2 separate regions of the Homo sapiens genome follow, and region 2 is linked to region 1. Evidence: fine-mapped expression QTL. A gene starts in region 1. The other region holds a variant in brackets. All regions are shown on one strand. Distances are between the middles of the regions.

The links. PIP is the estimated chance that this variant, and not a neighbour inherited with it, causes the effect.
Region 2: its variant is the best candidate, but not a certain one, in a credible set for the expression of CXCR6 in whole blood (TOPMed, PIP 0.85).

What each region holds. Positions count from the first base shown.
Region 1 is chr3:45,941,439-45,945,438 of GRCh38, reverse strand. CXCR6 (C-X-C motif chemokine receptor 6) reads right to left here and starts at 1,975. Exons shown (of 2, transcript NM_006564.2): 1 at 1,899-1,975. All of the region lies in intron 14 of FYCO1 (FYVE and coiled-coil domain autophagy adaptor 1), which reads left to right.
Region 2 is chr3:45,877,740-45,882,271 of GRCh38, reverse strand. It overlaps a transcript of LZTFL1 not described here. Among named protein-coding and RNA genes, the nearest start is that of CCR9, 6.5 kb to the left of the region's middle. RefSeq lists a silencer at 1,827-1,983. The variant C/A (reference allele first, on the strand shown) is at 2,505.

The sequences.
Region 1 (4,000 bases):
AGGACAAGGGATCATGTAACCTGTGGTGTGGGAGCAGGGGCAGCTGCGGCAACATCAGCCCATGAGTGCCAAGTCTGCCCTTGCTACAGGACTGCAGATACTCAACATGCAGCAGCTCATTTCCAGTGACCTGGAGCCATGTCTGGCCAGCACCTCTAGAAGATGTATGAAGAAGAGCAGGTGTTTGGACAGAATCTCTGCCAGCAAAGTCAAAATATTGCCTGACCAGACAAGTGCATATAAACGATGAGGTTACCTTTCCTAATCCACTCAGAAACACTTCTGTCGCTGACTTTGAGTCCTGACTGGGAGCAGTGTCTCCGATGCTGCTGCTTGCCTCTGTCTTTCCAGGGACCAAAGTGCCCTTTCTCTCTAGCAAGGAAGGATGCTGCCTTTGGGCTAAGACTGCTTAATAAAAATCCTTGCCCTTACGTCACAATTGTTAGATCTCTAAGGGTGATAGGTCAGCCAGTAGACATCCTGCCCCCCACAAGCTCTCTGGGGCACTGTATTAAGTAGGTCAGATGATGTGTATGTGTTATTGATTCACATGGGCAAAAACATATTTTTTCATCATTTAAAATATGAAACAGGTGGCTTTGCTCTTAAGAATAATGTTCAGCTCCCCATTATTGCTTGACTCGCTCTCGCCTTTTTTTGGTATCTTCCTGTTCCAGCTTTTGCTGGTCCCTTATGCTGCCATTACACATTTCCTCAAAGGACCTGTGCAAATTCATGTGTAATAATTGGTAAACTTTGATGTATAATAATTGGTAAACAGATTGGGCCTGGACAGTGCTGTGCAAATAGAGTATGAAAAATTACTTTCCCTTCTAGGCGAACTAAAAACATTCATTTCTTTATCCTCTATAATTAAAATCCTATTTTGTTTTCTGAAAATTAAAAAAAAAATCTACAACTTTGGAAGTAGTGTAAAAGTCTGATAATGATGAAGCAAATTACAATTCATACATAAAATAGAATATACTTAAATGTTTAGGAAGTATTTTTACTGATTTTGGAAAATGCAATACAGTTAAATTGCTAAGAACAGTGTAAACACAAAGTAAATATGCAAAATAAGTATTAACTATTACTATTACAACAAATAGATGTCAAAAGGATATAAAATTGTGATTCTTAACCTTTTTTGACCATAAACTCCTTTGAGAATCTCCTAAAAACTGCAGACCTTTTCTCAGAAATAATGTATATATATATACACACACACACACACACACAGACACACACGCACACACACAAACACCCCTACAATTCTGGGAGTCCATGAACCCCTTGAATCCTTCTGCCATGTATTCTGTGGGCCCTCACATAAGAGTTCATGATAAACTATGTGATTTTAACTGACCGTACTTTTAGAAACCTGGAAAAAATGATCACATTTTATTAACAGTTGGCCTCCAGCTGGTGGAATTATGGGTGACTTATTTCTTCCTTTTTTTAAAATAGTTTTCAAAGTTTCTACAGTAGTATGTTGATTTATATTGAAAAAAGAACATAAATGATAATCTGATAAAACAGCCTGTCTTATGCAAAAGAAATGAAAACAGAGATTATTCATTGAGCAAATATAGACAATAACTAGATTCTCCTTATCTCCCTGGGTGGGTCTGACTATGCCATTACTAGCAGTACCATCAGCCTGCAAGCACTAACTGTGTGCCTGGAAACATGTTCAGTAGTTTTCATGTTTCTCCAGTTTAACCCACACAGCAGCAAATGGCAGTGATGGAATTTGAACGAAGAGCAGCTGAGCTCCATAGCCTGGCATTTTGCACTGTACCCTACTACAGACAGGAATCTGAGAATACCAACAATACCTGGGGTTAGTCCTCCCTGTCTTCTTTTCAATATAAAGAGTAAAACAAATGACTCACCAGCAGAGATGCTTTGCCAGTTTGTTCCAGAGATGAGCTTGCTCATGAAGCAAGGTCTGCCTCTACTTCTGTGATGTGGTTCATGTTTCCGCTGAACATTTTTTAAGAGCCCTCAGCTGGTTACTATAAGAGACCCACCCCCTACTCCCGTCCTTCAGATCAGAATCCATATGACCAACCCGCCCCTGTGTAACGCGTGGGTCAGAGATGGATGGGTGACTGATACCCCACACTCCCTTCATTCTGCTTTGGGGCTGATTCTTCTGTCAGGGCCTGACGAGCTTTATTCGTAAACTAAAGGGGAACAATAAGGAGGTTTGGCTCTGGCCATCCACCGAAGATGGTGGCATTTGTACCTTAAAATTACTTAATTCACTAGTCAGACATCTTTTTGGAACAGTTAGGGTCTGGGCCAATGCTGAGTCCATGGTATGGGCTGGGTTCTGCGTGCATATGCAGCTCCAGCATATGTGATAGCTGTTAAGCCCCATAGCAGCCCTGCAGTGGATATTATCCTGCCTTTATAGATGAGAACACTGAGGACCATAGCCAAAATAACAAGCCCTGGTGCACACAGCTAGAAACTGGAAAATCGAAGATACACACTCAGGTATCTGTCATTACCAGACCAATCAACAGCATGATGATGGGTCTGCCAGAGGGCCTGGTGCAGCCCCACCTCCTAAGCCCACACCACTCAGGCACTCAGCAGGCAGTGCCCACCCACCCTGCGTAGGCTGGCTGGAATCATCTGGTTTCCTTGGGCTGCCCTCTGTACTCCTGGAATTCCCCAGATGTTGACTACTTTGATCTCAGTACAGTTCTAGTTGTCAGTCTCCATGATCTAACATTACTGACCCTTCTGGGAAATAACGCTGGAAGGCAGGAATTGGAGGCATGTCAGCCTGGGTCACATGCCCCAGTGCCTTGTAGTGGAGAGGGTACTAGGGAGAGGCATGGACTCGATGTCTGCTTTCCCAGAAGCAGCTGCCTTCTTGTGGAGGTGCCTGGCCTGCCTTCTCTGGCTCTGCACTCCCATTCAGGCTGCTTCTCTCCAATGCTGTTGCTCTCTCCCACCTGCTAGGCAAACCTTCTCATGTGGCTCTTCCTAAGGGCAAATGTCAAGCATTGGGAGCAGGGACCAGGAGCAGCCTCAGGATCCAGAGACTAACACTCATTTCTACCGCAAGCCTGGCCCTATGCTGGATGCTTCTATGTACAGCCATCTAATCCTAGTCACGTACAGATAGGCAAACAGAAGATTAGAGAGATTAGCCCACTTGCCCAAGAACACACATCCCTGGCAGTCACCCAGGACTGTCAGGCTGCAAAGCCAGTGCTTCCTGCCCTGCTCTGAGTATGGAGCTGTGCCAGGGGGCCCTGATAAAAGATCTGAAGACCTCTAGTAGGTTTGCAGGCCTTTTTGAATGAATTCGTTCAGACTGTCCTTTCTACCAAACTGGTACAAATGAGTGAGGTGTTCCTTATGGGCATGAACCATGAGGCCGCATAGACTACATACCGATGGACAGATGGATGTAGGGAATGGTGGACAAATGAATAAAGGAACAGACTGAGCCAAATATGCACCTGTCTTCCTGAAAGAGAACTTTCAAGGCAGGGTGGCAATTTAATGTAACCCTGCCTGACATTTAGGAATCTTTAAGCTTTGAGAGCTGAGTTTTACCCAGGGACAACCAACCATGCCATTCAAGACAGGTCCATAGGGCAGTGTTAGAATGGCCTGAGCCTTGTCAAGCACCCTTGGCCATGCTTTTCTCAGCAAGCCTTTCTACTCCATGGGGAAAAACAAGCCAGCACCTGGGGCCCTCCATGACTGTGTGTACATGTCAATATGGGGATATGTGTATTTGAGAAAGCATGGCTTGTTTATCGTGGCCATTCTTTAATAGAAACTTCTCTATAGTACAAAAGACTTTCACCTAAATTTGAGGAGCTGAGCCACTTGCAGGTTTGGGGCTAAAATTTTATTTTAATCACTTTACAAAATGCCGTTTACTATCTGCCAATTTATAGTGTTAATTGTTTTAAGGGCATTACTTTTATTTGAAACAAAACTTTGAACTTCCTAAGGGTGGGAA
Region 2 (4,532 bases), 63 kb after region 1:
AAGGAATAAAGTCTGCAAGGACCCTTTTTTCCCCACTAATCCATGAGGAAAGGGACTATGTGGATACTGGCCATGGTTGAAGCCCAGCAGCACATTCTAGGAGAATATTAAACATCTTCTGACTAAATTAATGCAAAAAATTCACCTGATATAAGTCTTGAGGATCTAGAATAGAGCCATCTAATAGCACTTTCTGCAATGTGGAAATATTCTATAGCTATCTGTCCAGTGTGTGGCCACATATAGCTAGTGAACATGACACTGTGGTTAGTGTGATCTTTTTAAAATCGTTATTTAATTGGAATTAGCTTAAATGGAAATGTAAACAGCCAACATGGCCAGTGGCCACCCTAGTGGATTGTACAGGTCCAGACCAACCTGCTATTCAGCAGCTAATATTTCTACCTCGGCTCTAGCCTTAGATAGCTCACATTATGATGCAAGCCAGGGCAGCTGGCCTGTGGCAGACTCACTCCCTTCTGCAAGGGGGTGAAGGGTGTGAGGCTGAGCTCTTCCTTCCCCAGTAGCACTCAAGCCAGGGCAGGCTTTAGCTATACTGGTTTTCTAGAATACCTGTAGATACTTTTAAGGGCAAGGTCCCTTAAAAGTATTTTTACACATTCTTCGTGTGTCGCAGTTAGTAATCAAAACCCTTAAAGGACAGGAATGAGGAGAAAGTAGTCATTTTTGCTAAATTCAGTTACCATGAATAGCCCTTGAAGGTCGCGGTGTCAGCTAGGAGGCAATTCTCAGAGAGTGAGAGAGAGAGAGGAGGAGGGGGCCCGCACCCTGCAGCAGCAGCAGGAATGGGAGGGACAGGACAGACATGGCCAAGTGCCCCTCAGGAGCTGCCAAATGATGAGATGTTGCAGGAGGAAGAGAACAAAACCAGTTGGAGGCTGTGGGAAGACTTGGGTATCTTTAACTGAGCAAGTGTGTGGGAGGAAATGTTGGTTTTGGCAGATAGTGATGCATGTAGCACTGGATGTGATATGGCTGAGGTGTTGAAGTGAAGGTGTCTAGCAGGTCGTTAGATATTCCCCACTGCAGCTCAGAGGGGAGGTCAAGAGTTCAGTGGTGTGGCTGCCAAGCTGCTGCAGAATACAAGCTGTTTATAAGGGAAATATGTGTCATCCTCAACTCCTGAGGTTTTGTGCTTGCAGCACCTGAGTCATGAGACCAGTCAGAGGATTTTTTATTTTTATTTGTCTCATCTATTAATGATAAAAATCATCCCTTCTGCCCTCACACGCATTATCTCATTGGAAGATCTCATTGGAATCCTTCATTCAACATGTACTTGTCAAGCTCCTACTATTTGCTGTCACTGTTCTAAGAGGTTGGATGTAGCAGTCAGCAAGACAGAGCACATTAAATAGCGACAAATGCCATGCAGAGAATCAGTACAGACAGAGGTGATGGAGGGAGTGGCGTGGGAAGGGGGCCCTCACACTGGATGGTCTGGGAAAGGCCCACTACAGTAGTGACACTTAAGGCCTGAGTGACAAGAAGTTCCCATCAATGTGAAGATTGGAGCAGCCATTATCAGCAGAGGGAACAGTTGGCAGGAAGAATTTGACGTGTCCAAGGATGAGAAAGACCAACAGGCAGGAGGACAGCTTGCAGTGAGGGGCGGCCAGATAATTTGGAGGGGCACGAGCATGTTGGGCTTTGAGGCTGGGCCAGTAGTTTTCACCTGATGCCAGGTGTACAGAAAGCTACCCAAAGGACTTATATAGGTGATAACACGATCCGATTTCCTTTTTTTTTGAGATGGAGTCTTGCTCTGTCGCCCAGGCTGGAGTGCAGTGGCGTGATCTCGGCTCACTGCAACCTCCACCTCCTGGGTTCAAGTGATTCTCCTGTCTCAGCTTCCTGAGTAGCTGGGATTACAGGTGCCCATCACCACGCCCAGCTAATTTTTGTATTTTTAGTAGAGATGGGGTTTTAGCATGTGGGCCAGGCTGGTTTCAAACTCCTGACCTCGTGATCCGCCTACCTCGGCCTCCCAAAGTGCTGGGATTGCAGGCCTGAGCTACCTCGCCTAGCCTGATTTCCATTTTTAACAGATCACTGATTGCTGCATGGGAAACAACAAAAAAACAGCAAAACCTTTGGTTCTGCAGGCACCAGAACCAAACGTCTAAATGAGAGCCTTGCCTTGGCTGGGCTGGCCTAGGCCACCGCAGGATCCACCCTCAGCTCTGCCTGTCACTGTCCCTTCTCTGGACCTCTGCCTGTACGGAGGCATCATGGTAGATTCAGGGTGCTTACATCCCTCCCTCCTGCCACCCCTGATGGAAGGAGGACACACACACTAAACGTCACCCAGGGAACATTTCTAGTGATGACCATCATTATTCACTGAGAAGTGCTTATGGGTTTTTTTAAATACATATTTTTATCATTAATTCCAGTTAATAATGTTGGGTTTTTTAAATAGGCTTTGTTTTTTAGAGCAGTTTTAGGTTCACAGCAAAATTGTGCAGAAGGTACAGAGAGTT[C/A]CTATATACCCGCTCCCGCAGCACATGTGCCACCTTCCCACTATCAACATCCTGCATCAGAGTGGCACATTTGTTATAATCAGTTCATCTACACTCATACATCACTATCACCCAAAGTAGTTTACTTTAGGTTTCACTCTTTGTATTGAACACTCTGTGGGTTTGGACAAATGTATGACATGTATCCACCATTAAAATAACATACAGAATAGTTTCATTGCCCTAAGGATCCTCTGTACTCCACCTATTCGTCCCTCTCTTCCACCTTACTCCTGGCAACCACTGACCTTTTTACTGTCTCCAGTTTTTCTTTTCCGGAATGCCGTATTTGTTGGAATCATACAGTATATAGCCTTTTCAGATGGGCTTCTCTCACTTACTGATATGGATTTAAGGCTCCTCCATGTCTTTTCATGGCTTGCTAGCTCATTTCTTTTTAGTGTTGAATAACATAAACTATTGTCTGGATGTGTCACAGTTTATTTATCCATTCACCTGCTGAAGGACATCTTGGTTCCTTCCAGGTTTGGGCAATTATGAATAAAGTTGCCGTGAACATCTGTGTGCAGATCTTTGTGTGGCCATAAGTTTCAGCTCATTTGGGTACATACTGAGAAGCACGATTGCTAGATCATACGGTGAGAGTATGTTTAGTTTTGTAAGAAGCTGCCAAACTGTCTTCCAAAGTGGCTGTACCTTTTTGCATTCCCACCAGCAATAAGAGTTCCTGATGCTCCATATCATTACCAGCATTTGGTGCTATGTGTTTAGGGCCTGGGCTATTCTAATAGGTGTGTGGCTTTAATCTGAAGTTCCCTAATGACCTATGATGTCGAATGTATTTTCATACGCTTATTTCCCATCTGCATATCTTCTTCAGTGAAGTATCTCGAACTCCTGACCTCGTGATCTGCCCGCCTCAGCCTCCCAAAGTGCTGGGATTACAGGCGTGAGCCACTGCACCTGGCCCAGTGAAGTATCTCTTTAGGTCTTTTGCCTGTTTTTTAATTGGGTTGCTTATTTTCTTATTGTTGAGTTTTAAGAGTTCTTTGTATATTATGGATAACATTCCTTTATCAGATGTGTCTTTTGCAAATACTTTCTCCCAGTCTGGGGCTTGTCTTCTCCTTCTCTTAACAGTGTCTTTCATAGAGGGGCTTTTTTTTTTTTTTACTTGAGGGCCTTTGTGACCCTAAAAATCAGAACTTTACATGTTTAGTTTTTTAAATAAGAAATTACATTAGAAATGGGCCCCATCCCCCAGCCTCACCCTGCCCCACTTTGTCCATAGCGCCAACCCCTGCCCTGTCCCTGGCCCTATAGTATATTAACACTTGATCATTTTTTCAAAAGCTGAAAGTTCAGTGGCTAGTTTTTGAAAAGTCAGAAAATTTCCACAGCATCAAAATAGCTACATGAAAATAGCCTCAGTTTCTAAATGGCCACATCAAAACAATCACATCAAAAGGTCAGGCCCCTGCAAGGGAGACCCAGAGGAAAGCTTCAGGCCTCGGGCTGGTGCTGGCCATAGTTAATAATAATGTTTTGCATATTCCAAAATTGCTGAAAGAATAGATTTTTAAACATTCTCACCACAAGAAAAATGAGTAGGTGAGGTGAGGAAAATACTAATTAGCTTAATTTAATCTTTCCACCATGTAGATACATCACATTGTACCCCATAAATAAAATTATTATTTGTCAGTTAAAAACTAGTAAATGGGCTGGGCGCGGTGGCTCATGCCTGTAATCCCAACACTTTGGGAGGCTGAGGCGGGTGGATCATTTGAGGCCAAGAGTTTGAGACCAGCCTGGTCAACATGGTGAAACACTGTCTCTACTAAAAATACAAAAATTAGCCAGGCATAGTGGCAGGCGCCTGTAATTCCAGCTACTCAGGAGGCTGAGGTGAGAGAATTGCTTGAACCTGGGAGGCAGAGGTTGCAGTGCGCCAAGATCAAGCCACTGCACTCCAGCCTGGGCAACAAAGAGCTAGACTCTGTCTCAGGAAAAAAAAAAAAAAAAACT